4 separate regions of the Homo sapiens genome follow, and regions 2, 3 and 4 are each linked to region 1. Evidence: fine-mapped expression QTL. A gene starts in region 1. Each other region holds a variant in brackets. All regions are shown on one strand. Distances are from middle to middle.

Evidence for each region. PIP is the estimated chance that this variant, and not a neighbour inherited with it, causes the effect.
Region 2: its variant is fine-mapped to the expression of FAM124A in lung (TOPMed, PIP above 0.99).
Region 3: its variant is fine-mapped to the expression of FAM124A in monocytes after LPS (Quach 2016, PIP 0.95).
Region 4: its variant is fine-mapped to the expression of FAM124A in breast (GTEx, PIP above 0.99).

Annotation. Positions count from the first base shown.
Region 1 is chr13:51,220,303-51,225,453 of GRCh38, forward strand. It overlaps FAM124A (family with sequence similarity 124 member A), which reads left to right and starts at 2,096. Exons shown (of 4, transcript NM_001242312.2): 1 at 2,096-2,267. The coding sequence starts at 2,200. RefSeq lists an enhancer at 1,244-2,034 and silencers at 1,815-1,864, 1,985-2,044.
Region 2 is chr13:51,185,818-51,190,968 of GRCh38, forward strand. It overlaps LOC107984554 (a long non-coding RNA gene), which reads right to left. Exons shown (of 2, transcript XR_007063803.1): 2 at 4,846-5,151. Among named protein-coding and RNA genes, the nearest start is that of FAM124A, 34 kb to the right of the region's middle. The variant G/A (reference allele first, on the strand shown) is at 1,937.
Region 3 is chr13:51,152,803-51,157,953 of GRCh38, forward strand. It overlaps a transcript of C13orf42 not described here. Among named protein-coding and RNA genes, the nearest start is that of C13orf42, 44 kb to the left of the region's middle. The variant T/C (reference allele first, on the strand shown) is at 2,859.
Region 4 is chr13:51,129,546-51,134,696 of GRCh38, forward strand. It overlaps a transcript of C13orf42 not described here. Among named protein-coding and RNA genes, the nearest start is that of C13orf42, 21 kb to the left of the region's middle. The variant G/A (reference allele first, on the strand shown) is at 2,624.

The DNA.
Region 1 (5,151 bases):
AGGGGTGGAGGAGAGCATCGTACCCCCATGATTAAAGAGACTGACATTAAACAGCTGGACTATGGAGTGTGGGAACCATGTAAGTTTAGGGGCTAGATACCCTGCAGTGATCACTTGAAGGTTCTTGTGCTGGTTACCTGCCAGCAACTCTTATACCCCGCCCTCCCAAAAAATGGGCCAGGTGCAATGCCTCATGCCTATAGTCCCAGCACTTTGAGAGGCCGAGGCAGGAGGATCACTTGAGGCCAGGAGTTCGAGACCAGCCTAGGCAACATATTTTTCTCTACAAAAAAATTAAAACTCAGCTGGGCATGGTGGCACGCCTGTAGTCCCAGCTACTCAGGAGGCTGGGAGGATCACTTGAATCAGGGAGGTGGAGGCTGTAGTGAGCTGTGATTGTGCCACTGTACTCTAGCCTGGGCAACAGAGTAAGACCCTGTCTCAAACAAACAAGCAAAAAATGAAGTGAGGCTTTTAAAACCTGGGAACTGAAGCAGAAAGCCATGCATCACTAGAATACAGTGATACCGTTCAAGCTTCTCTTCCATATAATAAATGCATCACTGAGTTGCCATTAGACTGCTATGCCAATGATGAATGATAACACTGTGTCCCCTGTGGGCGAGGGGAACCTGAATCCATGCATCATTTTGAGATGTGGCTTGAGGTTTTGGTCTGGCATGCCCTTTCTCTGGATATTTGAGAAAGGCAGAAATCATTTAAATAGCATCTCATTTTCCAAAGCCCATCTTCTAAAAGTCATGCTGATTTCACCCTTTCTTCCCTGGCCTTTTCCTTAGTACCATCTTCCTGAGGATACAACTGGCCCACTCATCAGCCTTCTAGGTAAGTGGCACAGGCTCCAGCTACCTTAAGTGGACTACCTGGCTTCCCTGCTCACTGATAGGGTGTCCTGGGACCAGGCACTCGAACTCGGTAGGGTTTAGTTTCCTTGACGGTAAAATAGAAAAGTAAGCCTGTTTCACAGCACTTCCCTGAGGATCAAATGAGGCACAGTTTGAATTGTTCCCACACAGAGTAAATAAAGGCAGGTTCCCTCCTGGCTGCAAGATAAAAAATGGGCAGGGGAATCTCCCTTGAAGAACTGGCACGCTCCTTTCTTTCAGCTAATGCCCACCAATATGTCCATTGCTGTTTGGGGTGCAAGAAATTTTAGGCTCAGTAAGGACAATTCCTCCCAATGGTTTGGATAGGGCTGTCAGAACTAAATTCAAGTTGTTCGAAGTCTCCTTCCGCCCGCCCTGCCAACTTGCCTCCCTCTTCACCCTCCTAATAGGAGGTGAGCCCCTCCAATAGCGATCATTAACTCACCCTAAGGTTATCCCCTTGCTGCAACAACCCGTGAATTGCAGGTTCATTCAATGCTCTTTAAATTATTTTTAAAGGCTTTTTTTTTTTTAAGTAGCAAAAGAATGCATGACACCTATTGTAAACTGGCAAGTTGAGGGGGTGGGATGCCGCTCAGACGTGTACTGAGAAAGGTGATAATGAATTTGGCGTCAGCAATTCTTCAGAAACTATAAGAAAACACCCAGGTGTTCGAATTGGTCCCAAAAGGGAAACAAATCCTTCCCAGCTTTCACGATGCGCTGAGGTTGGTTTTCTCAGTGCTCCTCCCAGATCAGGAGGTGGGGAACCTCGTGGCAAGCCCTGGGGCTCGGGATTCCCGGACTGTGGGCCTGGGGGAGAGAGGCGGCTCTCGTGTGCACACTTACCCCGCCCCCACAACACACACGCGGTCACGCACCACAGACGGGCACACGCGCTCAGCACAGCCACAGTCGCGTGCAACCAGGAGTGCACACCGCACCCACATCACACCGCATGCACAGACGCACGGGTGTGAGACCACACACCTCGGCCACTCACGCTCACACGCCCCCCACGCGCTCGCACACGCGCTCGCACGCGCACTCCCCGCGCACCGCCGCGCGCACACGCGGGTCCCGCCGGACGGCGAGGGGCGGGGCGGGCGCGGGCGCAGGCGCGGGTGCCCAGCCGGGCGCGGTCGGGAGAGGGCGCGGCGCGGGGTTCGCGGCTGGCGCTTGAGTTGTTTGCCGGCTCCCGGGCCGCCAGACGCTCGGAGGGAGCCCGGCCGGCTCGGACTGGGCGGCCGGGAGGGAGGGCGCCCCGGGTCACGACGGCGCCCGCAAGCCGAGCGCGGCCGGGACGTGCACCATGGACCCAAAGGCGGGCGGCGGCGGCGAGGAGGACGACTGCGTGGACTCGGGCGCCGAGACCGGAGGGTGAGCCGCGCCGGGCCGGGCCGCGGGCGGGGGGCGCTCTCCGAGTTGCGCGGCGGCTCCTCCCCGGACGGGGACCCTCCTGATCCGTGCGACGGGACCGGGGCGCGGGGCTTCTCCTCCTGCCGGATCCCCCGCTCTCTCCTGGGCGGGCCGCGCTGCCCTGGGCAGGGCGGGCACCACCCGGGGGGAGGAAAGTGGAAGGACTCAAGGTTCAGTGCAAGCCCACCCATCCTGTGAGGCGATGCAGAGCGCCAGGCGGATGCAAAGACCCCTTGTCTGCATCGCTAGAGACAGGAGATGCTCTTGCACTTGTTTCCTCCTTCCTCGGGGACTTTCCTCCTGTAGCTCCGGAGCCCCCTGGAGTCCGGCCCTGGAGATCGGGAGAGGAAGAAAAGCAGGGTGGGACACCCGCACCTAAAAGTCTTTCCGAAGTCGGCTAGGAGGATGGCATTTCTCGTTATATGGCTTCATCGTGGGACTTTAATCTGTGCTGCCGAGTCCCCCTCCCCGACTCCTCCAGTCCCGCCGAACTTCCTCACCTCTAAGTGCACCTGTCCCAGCTGGACCCTTTGGCCTGTTGTACCGGCGGGATGGAGATGGTGTTGGGATTAGGATCTAGCCCTGCCTTTTTTTTTTTTTAATATTCTCTTCGCTTCAGCGGACTCAAACAATGGGCTCAAACCTTTGGAGACTAATTAGTTAGTCTCCAAACACTGTTTTCCTGAGCGGAAGAAAAGACAAAATGCCTTTTAGGAGATGAATGTCGTTATAAAGGCTTCCAGGCAGCCTCTGTCTCTAAAGGACTTTCCTGTGCAGAGTCAGCACCACATCCAGGCCGCGGGTACTGACCCAGGAGGAAAGGGTGTTTTTTCCTATCTGGAGTAATCCTGGGGGAGGGCGGGAGCTGCCTAGACTACAGAAAGCCTCATTCCTGGAAGGTCGGAGAGGTTTTAGACTAATCTCAGGATTTGGCAACCCTGTGAGGGCAGGTAGAGAATCCAGGCCCACGATCGACCCAGAGTTCTAACCCAACCCCGGCAAAGCTCCCCACAGGGCCCCTCCTGCCCCACCACTCCTAGCCCAAATGCGGGACTTTACTCCCTAGGGCATTCACCCAGCAATGGGCTTTCTCTGTTATCCAAACTTATTCATAGCTCTCTACAGCACCCAATTATAATCTGGTGGAGTAACCTGATGCTAAATGCCAAACTTCCTTTCTTCTTCCCACTCTTTGTGTAAGTGGCATTTATCAACTTTAACAAGATTATTGGCTTTTTTTTTCTGCCATTAGTTAGCTGGACCATGAATAGAAGAAACAAAGCAAAATTAACCAGCTTATTTGTAACTGCGTTAAATAAAGCATTCACTAGTCTATTCATTTTCAATTTGCAGAACTCACCTAAAACTGATATTTTTTTCAAGGGCTCTGTCTTAGAGAAGGGAGAGGAAGTCCTGGACCCAGGGGGTGACATCGCCCCAGGATCTGGACATCAGCATGACAGCGGCCAGGCCTCCTGGGAGGGGCTCCCCACTCCTGCTGACACCAGAGCTTCTGTTCTCAGCCTCTGTCACTAAAATGTGTAGTTGTAACAGGACAGAATTGTTTAAAGAATTCTTGGCCAGGTGCGGTAGCTCGCGCCTATAATCCCAGCACTTTGGGTGGCCGAGGTGGGCGGATCACCTGAGGTCGGGAGTTTGAGACCAGCCTGGCCAACATGGAGAAACCTCATCCCTACTAAAAAATATACAGAATTAGCCAGGTGTGGTGGCGCATGCCTGTAATCCCAGCTACTCGGGAGGCTGAGGCAGGAGAATCGCTTGAACCCGGGAGGCGGAGGTTGCCATGAGCTGAGATCACGCCATTGCACTCCAGCATGGGCAACAAGAGCAAAACTCCATCTCCAAAAAAAAAGGAATTCTTACTGTATCACTAGTATCCTTAAGCTAAAGGTAAAATAGCATGCATTTCAATGTATGCTAATTAGTTTTGTGTTTGCCATATATTCACAGAGCCCTTGAATTTCAGTTATCAAAAAGCTGTTCATCGTTTCCCTGCTTTTCCAGAGCTTGCCCCCACCCCTTACCCTATCCAGCTTTCACAGAGATTATGTAGAAAGCACATAGAAGACAACAAGTGTTTGCTATCGTTAGTATTTTTAAAATGCAAATCTGATCATGTCTCTCCCTTTCAAACTTTTATGGCTCTGTTATCTACAAATGCAAGGAATTTAACGTGGCCTATATGCCCTGACTCCTGTTATGGAGTCCCTTCTTCCCTCCCTGGCCTTGTTTCTCAGCAGGTCCTTCTTTGCGCCTTGTATTTTTCTGTTTCCTCGCCTTTGTCAAGCTGCCCTCTTTGCCAGCTCTGCCCTTCCCACCTGACTTGCCTGTCTGCCAGGTGAAACTCTACTCTTCTTTCAGGACTCAGCTCAAGTGACACATCTGCTAAGGCAGTGATCCTTAATTTGGGGTCCATGAATTCCTTCAAGTTGTATGCAAAATGATGTGCTTTGTGAATTTGTATGAGAAGAGAACTTTTTTTTTTTATCAGATTCTCAAAGTAGCTGGTGATCTATTCCAAACCAAGTTTGGGCAAGATATGAGACATTTCATTTTCAACACACTGTGTCTGAGGTGTTGCAAGACATCCAAGTAAAGATGATGAATCAGCAGTTGGGTATATCTGTCTGGAACTCAGAAGGGAGGTCTTCATGATGACATTGCATTTGGGTACTATTTACCTAAAAATGGCAATGGAAGCTCTGGGAGAGACTAAATCAACTGAAGGTAATAGCAAGCACTTTCTTAGCATTTAGTATGTGCCACCTACTGTTCTAAGCCTTTATGTATTTCATGGACTCCTCGAATCCTTCAACAACTCTGT
Region 2 (5,151 bases), 34 kb before region 1:
CCAAAATAAAAAAACACAATAAATACTAAAAAATATAATTCATGAAAACTTTCTTAAAATTAAAAGATATGTTTGAAACTATATACTGAAGGGGCCACCATGTATTTGAGAATAATGACCCATAATGACCAACATCAAGTCATGTTTCAGTAAAATTACTAGACTTTAAAGAGAAAGAAAAAACACTGCAGTCATCTAGATAAAACCAGTATATTTCTGATGGCAAGTAAATTGCCATCAGAATTCCAGAATTTTTAGCAGCAATACATATGCCAGAGAAAGTAGAATAACAGATTTTAGACACTCAAGGAAAACTGAACCAATTATTATATAACCAGCTAAACTGACTTTCAAATATAAGGGCAATAAACTATTTGACATGGCAAGAACTTAGGAAATACTATTTGCATGAGCCTTTACTGAAGAATATACTAAAGAATGAACTTCAAATTTGATTGAGAAACATCAAAATAAGGACTGGTGAATATTAAATATGCATTTACTTGTAGAGCTAAATTATATTTAGGATAAAAAGGAAAGAGAACAACATACAATGTCTACATGTTCAGGCAGCATAGATTTTATATAATTGCAAAGAGTAGAGGATGATAGGGAGCACATCTGCAAAAACAATTTTAACTGGTGGTGGTAGAACAGTATTACTGTAGATATTCTTATCTTAGACTGTGTGTGCAATGAGGAAAAAAGAAAATAAATACTTATGAAATTTCTAATTTGATTATTCCTCAAGTCCTTGAGAACCAGGATTCTTAGATTCTCAGTATGGAAAAACAAGATACAGAAGTAATATAACAGATTAAGAAAAAACCTTACATCTCTGAATTTTAATTAAAAGTATCGATATAAATTCATAAGACTACATAGCATAGAGTTGTCGGAGGTATGTATTAACTCTGCCTACTAAGAGCCTAGAAACACCCAGATTATGGTATTAAAATACCCTTTCTACCCAAAGAGGCTTGAATATCTTTGAGGAAGTGACTGATTCCAAGTCCGAGGCAGAAAATGAACAAGATGCACTTTGTTATACCAGATAGCAAGGAGGCTATCAAAGACTACTAGGGCCATGTCAAAAATACTGAGAAACTGACTTGAAGAGGCTCCCACTGGCCAAAGAAGGAACAAGTGAGCTTCAAAGGGATAATTGCAATCATAGACCCATTAAATCAATGAGTTTATAATAACATTTTTTAACCCAAATTGTTGTTCACCTTCAGAAAATGATAGAAAATCAATTCATCTTGAAAACTATTAAATAAATGGAAAGAAAAAAGTATCATCCTGTCTTTCTGTATGAACTAGTCCACTCCATAACCAAATTGCAGATGTGTGAAGTGTCTCCTTATAAAGAGTTTTACACTAAATAAACTGCAAGAAATAATAGAATTAAAATTTCACTATTTCCAAATCCCAGGGAAGTAATGAATCAAGGCATTGAGCATCAAGAGCTGCAACTACAGAAAGAAATGACCAGACATTATGTGCCTCTTCTCCACAGAACACACCACGGCCTACGGCCTTAGGAGAAAGGATTAAGCATGAATCTGATCAAGACTTTGGCTCCAACTACCAATTTGCGGGAAATACACAGGATGGAGGAAGATGTTGACTCAAGCTATGATTATGTAATTTAAAAATCCACACTGTAGATAACTATTCAGGTCAAATGCAACAGATAAATTTTAAGAGGAAGAGATGGAGGGAAAACTAGAGATTAAGAGACTTAACAGCTGTTAATTTTTTAAATGGACAAGATTATACTGTCTATTGATGTACATTTAGATAATAAAAGTATTTAAATATTACACATGATTGATTGCCAGGTTAGCTTATTTTACCATATAAACAGAGTGGTGTATTATTGGGGAGGCAGGGATTAAGACTAGGGTAGACCTTATGGAGGGGCTTCTGGAGT[G/A]ACTGGTGAAATTCTATTTCTTGACCTGATTGTTTGTCTTATAAGTCATTAAGCAAACATTTGTTTTGTAGCTTCTTTTGCATCTGGTTTACTTTTAAATATAAAAGTTTTTTAAAGTTTATGTGAGCATTCACTACTCTTTACTGCTTCTCTATTGTGCTATTAAGACAGACATGGTGACTTCATGAAAAATATAAAACTGAAAAATTTTTTTACATTAAAAATTTGAGGCCAAAACCAGCTGAACAAGTAGGCATAAAGAAGATGTAAAGTTTTCATGAAAAGAACTTGGAAGTTTTCTTTTATAGTAAGCTTAAGGTGTATTAATATTTAGATAAGAAATTTCCCAGGCACTAACGTGGTCTTGGCACATTAATAAAAATATAAAATCTAAAACAACAGAACAATCATTGCTCTCCCCACTCTGAATGGTTGAAGGCTATATACCTTCACAAGTACTCTGACAGGCAAGGGTGCTCAGAGACAGATGAGGGTGGGAAGGGTCTCACACCATATTATACAAGGAACAATGAGGCAATGAAAAATATTTATTCTGGAAAGACTAGACTGAAAGACGTGACCATTAACTTCAAACATCTGAAGAACAGCCTGTTGAGAAAGGCATAATAGTTGTTCTCAGTGGTCCCAAGTCCAGTTGGTGGAAGAAACAGGGAGACAAATTTTGTGTCATAAAGAATTTTCTAGCTGGGCATGGTGGCTCATGTCTGTAATCCCAGCACTTTGGGAGGCTGAGGTGGGTGGATCACTTGAGGTCAGGAGTTCGAAACCAGCCTGACCAACATGGTGAAACCCTGTCTCTACTAAAAATACAAAATTTAGCCAGGCATGGGAGTGTGCACCTGTAATCCCAGTTACTCGGGAGGCTGAGGCAGGAGATTCTCTTGAACCCAAGACAGAGGATGCAGTGAGCTGAGATCATACCACTGCACTCCAGCCTGGGCGACACAGCGAGATTTCATCTCAAAAAAAAAAAAAAACATACACACAAACCAAGAATTTTCTGAGTGAGAAAATGTAGTGAATTACTTTTTAGAAAGTACAAAGTTCAGGCCGGACACGGTGGCTCATGCCTGTAATCCCAGCACTTTGGGAGGCCGAGGCAGGTGGATCACGAAGTCAGGAGATCAAGACTATCCCGGCTAACACAGTGAAACCCCATCTCTACTAAAAATACAAAAAAATTAGCCGGGCGTGGTGGTGGGCATCTGTAGTCCCAGCTACTCGGGAGGCTGAGGCAGGAGAATGGCGTGAACCTGGGAGGCGGAGCTTGCAGTGAGCTGAGTTTGCGCCACTGCACTCCAGAGCCTGGGCGACAGAGCGAGACTCTGTCTCAAAAAAAAAAGAAAGTACAAAGTTCTGTTTGAAGGTTTGAAGTTCACTATCAACAGATATAAACTTTACTATACACACATACATGGACATGTCAATTTAAGACACTTTTATGGCTTCTGTGCCTTTTCCATTAAACTTCCCTGAACCCCTTCCAGATACTTCTTGTCCTTGGCAGCATTTCCATGAGTTGCATCTATCTTACCTACCATTCGAGCTAGGCCATAATGGAGTGGAAATACACCATCCGTCTGCATATCATCCTTTTTTTCGGGGAAACATTCTACTTTCATTCAAGGTGGTCAATGTGAGGATGATGCTGACCACACATTAGTTCCAGAGATGGGTATGTGACCCAAGATAGGCCAATGACAGGGCTCCAGCCCTATGCCCATAATAATGGTTTACTGAGATGGCCCCGTAATCCTGACTGAGGCACAGTCTTCCCAAGGAATTTTCTGTCTGGGCTTTTTCTTCTTCTGGGATCTTGAGTCCTAAAGTCAATAAGTTTAAGCTGCTTTGAAACACTTTTCTTGATTAGAAAAAGCTATCTACTATAGCAATTAAATGGACCAACAGTTAAAAGAAACAGAAGCAGATAAAGAGATTGAAAAATTAATTCTTTAGGTCCAAATGTACCTTAAGTATACCTAAATTTTGTAGTTACATAAATCAGTAAGTTTCTTTCTCTTTTCCTTTAAATCAATGTGAGTTCAGTTTGTCACTTGCAACCAAAAGAATTCAGACTAATATGTAGAGCATATCACAGTTGTACGTTTAATATAACGCTTTCTTGCATAATTGTGTTAATGAAACAAGATCTGACAATAAAACTTTAAAGTGCAGACATTAGCGTTCAATTAACTCGGCCACATATTCATATGTTCAGTTGTTATTATGGAGAGTAAGATTTGGTTGAGGAATTAGAAATCGTTCATAGCATAAAGCTCTGATATCTGGATTGCAAAATTCTAATATCTGTAAGATGAATAAAATATAGTTCTTTCTGCTTGAGAAATGAGTGGCTTCTGCCTAATTTTGAATTTTTGCCTCATTATGTGCTCTGAATCAGTACTTTCACAAATGGAAAATATTAATTCTCATTAGAACCCATTTGAATTCTGACAATAGCTGTGATTTGTATTTGCATCTGATTACACTCTACTAAAAGGAGCAAACTGGATGCAGCAGAGATGAAATCTGTTGAGTCCTGAAGAGTAAGGGAGTCTACAACAACGAGAAGGAGAGTCTGGTGAAACTGGAAGTGGGTGGGTGCCTGAACGCTGTCATATTTTCACCACCTGAATATATTACAAGAAATGTCAGCCTTTCTTGGCCCTGGATTCCCTGTGAAAGTAGGGTTTCTCTAACACACACACACACACACACACACACACACACACACTCTGATTGTAGCTCCTTAAATATCTAGAAGTCACTGGTCACATTTATTACTCAAATAATTTAAAGTATGATTCAAGAAGCGACAAAAGTGTCACTGTGTCTACAGATTTACTCATTTCATCCATCCTTTTTAGTTACTCCAGGACTTCAACATCTTTAAAACAGGCATTCTATGGTTTATTAAAAACATTACATCCCAAATTTCTGATGGCTGTTTGAGATATTTTATACAGACATCTACAATATGTTTTTCCACATGCTGCTGGAAATAAAACGTTTTGCTTGAAGAAGCTTCAATACTGTCCTGATTCCTCTGGTTCTTGCATTAATTAATCTTCAATGAGCTTTTCAATAGCTCCAGTTCCAAAATCCTGCTGCATATCAGAGTTACTAAGGGACTTTCGTGAATTCAGTTGTGGAAATCCCTGCTGTAGAGCCTTGCCACCCAAAGCAGCGTTGAT
Region 3 (5,151 bases), 68 kb before region 1:
GGAAATCCACAGATAACCCTTTAAGGCTCACTGGCTTAGTGACTCAATCCCTCCAGCCTCTTTGCTATGCTCGAGCCACATGTCTGCTGGCTGTGGATCCCATACATGCAGAGCTGCGTCATGTTCGCGGGCACCCTGGGGACACCTGCTGCGGGGTTGATGTTTTGTTATGTTTCTGCAGCACAACCAGGGCTGGCTTCTTGGGGACTGTATACAGTGCACTTGCCCAGCCCCACACACAGAAGGGATTGAGGTTTAGTGCTCTGCAGTGGCAATCTTAAAACTCTTAATGATTGTATCTTTGAATTAATGTTTTGTAAGTCAAGTTATGTGCCAAAGACTTGGAGCCTCAGCTCCTGCCATTGCACCTGCCGCCTCCCTAGCAAGGGTTCTTCAACACCCCCTCCCCTGTCCTGCCAAGTGACCACTGCCCCTTTTTCCTGCTCCCTCCATAGGGTCCTGCTGAGCAACCACTGCCCCCTTTTCCTGCCCTCCTCAGAGTGTGGGAGCCAGGCATGCACCCCCTGCATGCCCAGGGCATCAAGATGAGGTCCTGGGCACCTATAAGTGTCTGCACTCACCCAATGCCTATGCTTGTGCCCAAGGGAGTGTGACACTCAATACCAAATAAAAAAACATGACAGAGAGAGAGAGAGAGACAGAGATAGAGACTGTGAGAGAGAAAGCTTTTCTCCTACTTTAAAAAAAATTGTAGTAAAAATTATGTAACATAAAATTACTCTCTTAACCATTTTAAGTGTACTGCTCAGTTGTGTTAAATACATTCACGTTGTTATCAACCCATTTTCTTGCTTTCTGTTTTTTTTCTTTTTTTTTTTTTTTTTTTTTTTTTTGGAGACAGGATCTCGCTTTGTCGCCCAGGCTGGAATGCAGTGATGCAATCTCTCAGCTCACTGCAACCTCCGTCTCCTGAGCTCAAGTGATTCTCCCACCTCAGCCTCCCAAATAGCTGGGACTACAGGTGCATTCCTAGCTAAGTTTTGTATGTTTAGTAGAGAAAGGATTTCGCCATGTTGTCCAGGCGGGTCTCAGACTCCTGGGCTCAAGCAATCTACCGCCTCGGCCTCCCAGAGTGCTGAGATTACAGGATTGAGCCACCATGCCTGACCCAACCCATCTTCAAAACTGTTTTCTTCTTGCAAAACTAAAATGTGATACCCATTACTCCCCATTTTCCCCTACCCCCAGCCCCTGACAACCACCATTCTACTTCCTATCTCTATGAATTTGACAACTCCGGTACGTCACACAAGTGAATCATACAGCTTTTGTGTTTTTGTGACTGGCTTATTTCACTCAGCATAATGTCCTTGGGGTTCTTCGTGAGTAGCATGTGTCAGAATTTCCTTCCTTTTTTAAGCTGAATAATATTCCATTGTGTGTCTATGTCACATTTTGTTTATCCATTCATCTGTAGATGGACATTTAAGTTCCACCTTTTGGCTATTGTAAGTAATGCTGCCATGAACACGGTATGCAACTATCTCTTTGAGTCCCTGCTTTCGATTCTGTTGGGTATGTTTGGAAGTGGAATTGCTGAGTCATAGGGACTCCTGCTTTTTGAACACACATTTTCATTTTGAACTGGGCTGTTTAAATTATACAATTATACAGCTGGCTCTGCACATGCCCAGTTAGGGTGCGTATGAATCACAGTGTCGGAGGACTGTTCTGCTTCAGCCAATGGAACTAAGGACTAAAGACTTTCCATGTTTGACCTGATAGTGTCACCACCAGAGTGGAGCAAGCGAGAAAAGTAAGAGACTGAGCAAGAGTGCTCACCCTCAAGTGTCCCCACCAGTCAGAAGCAGCATGTATTGACATTCATGGCTGTAGAACATTCTGGAACTGGTTTTCATTTATCAATGCATGCATTATTTCTTCCAATGCATATGTATTAAACCTCAGCTACGTGCCAGACCTCGTTGAAGACACTGAGGATAAAGCAGTAAACAATGCATGGAAGGGTCTTCCATGCAAGTCAGACAAGTAAACTAATTGCACATTCGACGGTTTCTTGTGAAAAGTTCTATAAAGGGGAAATGTTGGGCCCTGAGCCCAAGGGTAGAAAGCAGGCTGTGCATGAGTCACTGTCCTGCTTTTAAGGGGCCGGTAAGGTAGGACAGGAGTTTCCAAAGTGGTACGTGAGATGATCTTAGGTAGAACGTTTTATCTTTTCTTTTTAATAGGTACATATTCAGTTTAACGTATGTTTAGAAATATATATCTAATACCTCAAACCCTCAATTCTTAACTATCTCCTGGATGATGCTCAATTTAAAAAGGAGTTCATGTAAAATGAATAAATATAAGCTAAATATTAAAGCCTATTATGTTGTTATTAAAATAAATAAATAATGCAGGAGCTACATGAATAAGACCTAAACATTTAAAGATTGCAACTCAAAAAAACTACATTTTGGAAACTCCTTGTGGGTTTTAAAGATAACTTTTTTAATACAGACATATTTTTAAGAAGAGTATAACTAGGGCTAAGATACAAGTAAGTCCATGGGGAAAGGGAAGCAGCTGTGTTTGAGAGGAGCTCCTAACCCAATTTAGGGGATTCAAGAAAGGCTTCCAAGAAAATTGCTTCATGCAATGAATTTTGTTCCTTGAATTACTCAGTCCAGGTGTATTTGTGTGAACTCTTCAAGTATGAGCGCTGGAAACCCACTACAGCCAGTTTAAGCAGGAGGGGTAATTTGCAGATGAGGATGCTGGGTGATCCCACAGTGGCTCAGGCCTCAGAGTGACCCACCTCTCTCAATCTCTGCTCCTGGTCCCCACTCTTATCTGAGGCTCTGCTTTACCTCTCACACTCGCTGCACACTTCC[T/C]TTCTCAGTATATTTCCAAGTGGACAAGATGGAAAACGGCTACCGCATTCTTCTATTTATATCTCTTCCATTCAAAGACAATCTCAACTGATGTTACCATTTCTTACTTCCAAGTCTTGACTTCTGGGGAAGAGACTCTGGTCAGGCATCACAGGTGACCTCAGAGGCGGGGTCTTGTTCACACAAGGACAACTGTCACCACGTGGTCAGGGAGGGGAAAATTACCAGAATCCAGATGGGAATGGGGTTGGAGATCCAGGCAGAAAACCTGATGGCACAAGCTGGAAAAGTCCTCATTTCAACAGCTTCCAGACTCCCCTGTGCCTGACATCAGTGTAGGTAGGAACTGCCAACAAGCCTGGAACAACATTTTCTCTTAGGCCACCTTGAGGATACGGGTGGCAGGAGAGATCTGGAGTGACAGGGGACCTTGACCCCACCCCCGGCCTGTAACCCAGGGGTTCTCTTGGGGAAGAAGGAAAGCAGTCCCATGGGCCTGCCACGTGCCTAGGATTCGGGGCTATGTTAACCCATAGGAGGGAGGTAGGGAGCAAACAGTTTGGCTAGGCCTATATTTCTACTTTATATCCCAGAAAATAATGGGATTTGGCCCTTCCATTTGAAAGCCTGTGTCATTCAACAGAGTAATCGGTAACACATGTATAGCTCTTACTATGTGCCAAGTGCATACTGTGTTCTAAGTGTTTTACACAGATTAACTCAAATAACTCTGTGATACATAGCTGCCACTACGCCCTTTCCTGAAGATGAGAAAATTAAGGCACAGAGAGGTCAAGGAACTTACCCACATTTACACAGAAAGGAAATGAGGAGCTGGAACTCAAACCCAGGAAATCTGTCTTCAGAGCCTATGGTACTGATCAAAAGGCCACACAGACCAAGGTTAAAATCTTGCTTCACCCCTTACTTGTTATAAGGTCTCTTTAAACTATTGATTCAGTGATAAAATGGAACAAAAGACACCTACCATATAAGATTATTGTAAAGACTAGTGGAAAAAATCGGTATCTACAAAGCACTTAGAACTGAATAGGTACTTGATCAGGGTAGTTACTATTGTTAAGGAGAGATAAGGAATCTGAATATTGTTCAGCTCTCATGGGCATCTGGTGATGGGGTGTGTCCCCATTTTCCACACTGTAATTGTCTGCCTAGGCCAGCTCTCATTCAGGCCAGTTCACTCTGTTGCAAGGGAATAATCCACGCAATTGTTACCCAGTGCCATAGGTGGCTGAGTACAGCTTCTCGTATTACATATCTTCACATCCTGCTGAGCAACAGCACTAGTGGTGCTTTTTCTATAGTTATTTAAAATTTCAGTTCTCCTTAATTGAAGTAGAGCATACATAAAGGGCACAAATTGTAAATGCACAGCTCCAGTGTTATATGTGCAGATGTCCAGATCCAGGCCTAGAACACTTCCAGCACCCCAGAGGCTCCCTCTGCCCTTTCCCCATCAATTCCCACACTGGCCAGGAGCGGTGGCTGCCGCCTGTAATCCCAGCACTTTGGGAGGCCGAGGCGGACGGATCGTTTGAGGTCAGGAGTTCGAGACCAGCCTGGTCAACATGGTGAAACCCCATCCCTACTAAAAATACAAAAATTAGCTGAGCGCAGTGGTGTGCACGTGTAGTCCCAGCTACTCTGGCAGCTGAGGCAGAAGAATCACCTGAACCCAGGAGGTGGAGGTTGCAGTGAGCTGAGATTGTGCCACTGCACTCCAGCCTGGGCGACAGAGCGAGACTCCATCTCAAAAGATAAAATAAAATAAAATAAAATAAAATGAAATAAAATTCCCACACCAAAGAGGTGGCCAATGGACTGACTTCTATTGCCTTAGGTTCATTTTGCCTGCTCGTGAACTTTGTAGACATGGCTGGATTTGTACTGCCAGTGTTTTTGTAGGCACTTCTTGCCTTCTTCTGCCATGCAGGTGAGTGAGCTATTTGTGGCCAGCGAGCCTTTGTTGAAACCCCCTTTGTTCCTTACTGCACCCCTACACACGCTTGTACAGGAGCAGACCATGCCAGCATGAAGAGGCAACCAACTGGTGTTTTTTTAATGTTAGATAAATAAAGCAGGGTCAACAGAAGCCTCGTGTATTGTGAAGTAATAAATATTCACTAAAATTCAGAACTTGACAATTAAATATTGACACCTGTGTTCTGGCTCTCACAAAAGATTTAAAATCTCTCAGAGGATTTGTAAGTGGCAAGAGCAAGGAAAGAGGAAAGAGGAAGGCGTGCAGCCTTAAAGTGAGTTTAGGACAAGC
Region 4 (5,151 bases), 91 kb before region 1:
TGTCTTTCTCTGGCTTCCCTGAGTGCCTCGCCTTCCCCACCCTGCCACAGACAATGCTTTTCTCCCTTCCCTTTCCTTTCTTTCTCTGTGCAAACCAGTTGAACGCACGACAAAAATCATTGTTTATCTCCTCTATAAAGTTTTGGTTAATAGAAAAAAGGATTTGTGAGCCTAGTCTTAAGCTGTAGTGAATCTGGTGTGCTTTGTGTGTCTTTCTGTATTGTTCTGTCATAAAGAGGGGTACCTTAGGATAGAACATGGCCTTAGAACCCATAAGCCTACTCTTCAAGATGGCCTAGTAAACTGGTCAGTTATAAACTTTGCTGCAGATGCATGAAAAAAATAAACTGGATGGGGTTTCCCTCCTGTCTTCTATGTCCTTGGGAACCATGTGGCCTTGCTTTCTCTTTTCACAATGGCAGCCCGGGTTCAGGGTTCAATTCCTGGCTTATGGAATGAGTCCTTTACCTGCTGAATGTCTGTGTATTTGTATGTGTTGTGTGTGTGATATGAAAGAGCTTTGATTAATTGGTTTAAAAATAAGTGCTTAAATAAAATATTTTTTCAGAAAAGTAAAAAGTGTAATGCCTTTTAGTTCACATGACTTTAGTAATCTTTGGGAAATAAAAACAGCCTTAAAGATTATTGGTAAAACAAAGACATTTGGTCTAAATTATGCAGTCAGATATTAAGTTTGCTAAATGCTTTAAGGTCATAAACTGCTTCTTTGACTTTTGAAAATTGTTCAATTTATTTTGGAGCATTAGATTCTAGATAAGGCCTGGGAACATGTGAAATTAGCGTGCCCCCTATCTATGCAAAGAAGGTTATAAAGAAAAGAGATTTTATATAAGAAAGGATTTTGTATGGTAAATTCTTGTCCTAAAGTAAAATGACTGGTTGTTTAAAAAGAGGGATGTTTAGGACAAGTCAGAAAGTCAAAGCAGGTTGTAGATGGTCTGTGTACATTGTAAAAGAATTTATAAAGGGGATTTATGCAAGAAATGTACAATTTAAAGGTGATTAGGCCTCCTAAATGCTTCAAAAAAACACCACTATGACTCTTAAATGTACAGCTTGGTAAGGCCTGGGACACATGGAGTTAGACAACGGAAAGAATCAGACCTTATCTGCACTTCTGACTGGGTCCTAGGCTCCACACTAGTACATAATTAAACCCCTGAACTTACCAAGGTTTTCACCAAAAGTAAAAGTCACTAAGAGTTAACATTGTAACATATAGTTAAGACTACTAAAGAAACAGTTCTATGTGTAAGGCATGTAAGGAAAGTGAAATGTGTTTTTGGTAAAAAAAAAATATATATATATATATATAAACAGTCAAGGAAATGTGGATTTTTTTTGCCTAGATTAAAGGGTTAAAGTGTTGTTTTGAGTTAGGATAAAGCCAAAGGTTTGAACAAGTTGTAGAAGGTTTGTGAACAATTAATTGTAAAAGAGATTCCATGTGCCAACATATTAGCTAAAGCTAAAGGAGCATTCAGTTTTTCTGTAAATTAAACATTGAAGTAATCTTTTTTGACTTTTCGCTTAAAACCGTGCTGATCCTTTGTTTTGTTTTTCAAAGTCAAGGAAACTTAAGCTATTTACAGCTTTTGACAATTAAGTAAATTATACTCCTGTGAACAAAATTTGGAGCATATTTGTTTCTCTCTACCTGATTCCTCCAGAATTTGGAAACTATTTGTGAGTATCTTAAGGCAACATAGTGCAATAAGAATCTGTTTCTTTTGCAATAGGACACAATTGGAAAAACTGGTTATTTTTACCAAGGCTTTGACTGGAATGGTGTGTTTTCCTTTAAGGAATTAAACTTGACTTATAGATCCAATAAAAGCCCCTTGGGAAAACTGGCCTCACACCTTGTCTACACAGTCCCTGTACAGGTTTCCTGACCTGTGGTAAGTAAAGAATGTCACTTTCTAACAGGCCTAGGACCCCACCAAGTTATCTGGGAAAAGGCCTAAGAGCCCCAAGTTATCTGGGAACCTCAAGAGGAGAGGAAGTTACTCAACTCATAGGTATTTGAGGGTACAAATCCATGGCTCGGCTCTAAAAAAGTCTTATCTAAGATTCCTTCTTATGGAACAGAGTTCCATCAAAGCCAATTTAAAAAGAGCTTATGTGAAAAATAATTATTCTTGCTGCACTTTATACAAATAATCAAGCCAAGTATAATAAACCAAATCAGTCTTACCATGATTTGTCTTTAGTGAAAAATGGGAAACTAGAGAGAGAAAAATTATGTTTCAAGAACTATGGTACATTTGTTATTAAACTTTAGTCTCATCAGTTATTTTTGAGTTTTTTTCCTGTAATTTAGACTAGCCCTGCTTATTCCTATGAAGCAACCAGTGATCTCTGGCTGCTGCTTAGAAGAAACAAGAGGGATGGGTAATATAAAAATCTGGATCAATATTCTAATCCTGAGCATGTATTGGAATCATCTAGCAACCCCATATCAGCTTGGTTCCAATAGTTGCCCAGTTCATGGAAAGCCTTCTAATTTAGTTAACTTGAGATAATTTTGCTTATTTTGCTTTACTGTTGTGGAATATATTGTTGTACTCTTTGTGTAGAAATGCAGGATAAGCGGCCGGGC[G/A]CGGTGGCTCACGCCTGTAATCCCAGCACTTTGGGAGGCCGAGGCGGGCAGATCACAAGGTCAGGAGATCGAGACTATCCTGGCCAATATCGTGAAACCTCAGCTCTACTAAAAATACAAAAATTAGCTTGACGTGGTGGCGTAATCCTAGCTACTCAGGAGGCTGAGGCAGGAGAATCACTTGAACTGGGGAGTCAGAGGTTGCAGTGAGCCAGGATCGCGCCACTGCAATCCAGCCTGGTGACAGACAGACTCCGTCTCAAAAACAAAAAAAAAAAAGCAGGATAAGCTTACCGAATGTTTTCTTAAATTAAACACTTATTCATCTTCTGGATATCACCTTTTGTTGGAACTCAGAGTTATGAGTGTCCCTCAACATACTTATGCTTTCTAAGCTCCTCTCTATCCTGAACACAAGAGACTTGGGAATATCATCGCCCCTACTCAGCCCAAAGAAGTAACAGAAAATGATGGATCTTCATCCCTCTGCAACCCTTAGGATTAAGGGTTTTGTTATTTAAAAAGCAGGGAAAATGTCAGAGGCATCTGGACTAGAGCAACTCCATCTTGAATAGGGGCTGGGTAAAATGACGCTGAGACCTGCTGGGCCACGTTCCCAGGAGGTTAAGGCATTTTAAGTCACAGGATGAGATAGGAGATTGACACAAGATACAGGTCATAAAGACCTTGCTGATAAAACAGCTTGCAGTAAAGAAGCAGGCTAAAACCCAAACCAAAACCAAGATGATGATGAGAGTGACCACTGGTCGTCCTCACTGCTACACCCTCACCAGCGCCATGACAGTTTACAAATGCCATGGCAACATCAGGAAGTTATACTATATGGTCTACAAAGGGGAGGCATGAATAATCCACCCCTTGTTTGGCATACAATCAAGAAATAACCATAAAAATGGGCAACCAGCAGCTTTCAGGGCTGCTCTGTCTGTGGAGTAGCCATTCCTTTATTCCTCTACTTTCTTAATAAACTTACTTTCACTTTACTATACGGACTCACCGTGAATTCTTTCTTGCACAAGATCCAAGAACCCTCTCTTGAGATCTGGATTGGTACCCCTTTCCAGTAACACCTAGAGTAGTCAGATTCATAGAGAAGGGAAATAGAATGTGGTTACCAAGAGCTGGGAGAGGGGAGGACGGGGAGTTGCTATTTAATAGGCACAGAGTTTCTGTTTGAGGGAATGGGGAAGTTCTAGAGGTGGGAAGTGATGTTTGCACAACATTGTGAATGTACTTAATGCCACTCATTTTACACCTAAAGATGGTTAAAATTGTGAATTTTAGTTATGTATATTTTATCACAATTTTAAAAACTATAAAAAATTTTCTCTACTGAACATGTACTATTTTTAATTTTTTTATTTATTAAATATATATTTTTTAATTAAAGTTGGCAATTTCAGAAACACTCTGGGAGCCCTGGGGCTGGGTCAGCCTGGCCTGCAGCACAGCCCCAATGGGCCCCAGGAAAGGTGTGGGTGCCCGGGTGCCTTCCCTTGGTCTGAGCACTGTTCTGTGTGCACTGAGGTCTGATGCACATGGGCCTCCCCAGTGGCTGTCAACCTTTTGCCTCCTGCATCTCGAACTCTGTGCCACCGTGTGTCCAAGAGAAAAATGAGACAGAAGAGGGGGCTCTGTGATACCAGACATCTGGAAACTGACTCCAAAGGGCCTGTGCTGAGCAACATGGAGTTTTACAAACGACAGAAGCTATCTTGAGGACAGGGGACAAAAGCCAGGGAAGCCTTCCTGGGGTCCTCTACACCAGCCCTCAGGAGAGCAGGCATCCGCACACCTGCAGCATCCTGTGCACGCTCACACCATGTTCCTTCCACCCACCATCCACCAACACCACTGCTCCCAGAAACTCCCTTGGGAAGGTGAGCTTGTAGGTAATTTATGGTTTCTTTGCAGAATTTCCTGAAAATCTAAGTCCATTTACCTGCCTTCTCAGGACCAAAAATAGCAGCAATCTAGCCCAAATCCTCACCTCCCTGTGTCCCCTGACCCTAATATGTCCCAAACTTTCCCAATTCTAATCCACCCCCACATCAAAAACTCACTCACTCAGGGTTCAACATATTCAATGACCACCACATTTGCCCTCTTTTCTGAGGCACTCCTCAGTCTCAGAATCCCCTTTACTGGGGTATGTAATGAACTTGGCTTTGCCTTAACACCAAGCTGTTTTGGTGTGGTTTGGGGAGCCACCATCCCATCTGATACTCAACTGCTGTGGACAGATACCTCTCGGCAAAGGGGCCGTTACAGAGTGTAGAGTCAGTGATCTTCCTACAAACTCTAAATCCTTTGGGATTTATGATGGTTAATAGGCAAGAATGAACATATACTCATTTCTCCAACTTAACTGTTTTCCAATTCTTGTTCTTTTATTAAACAAACAAGCAAGGCAGGAAATTCCTCCTGTCTGAGGTTAATTTGATCACCAGCATCAAAAACCTGCTGGGCCCAGCTCCAGCTGAGAGGATATGAGCACATTCTCTACC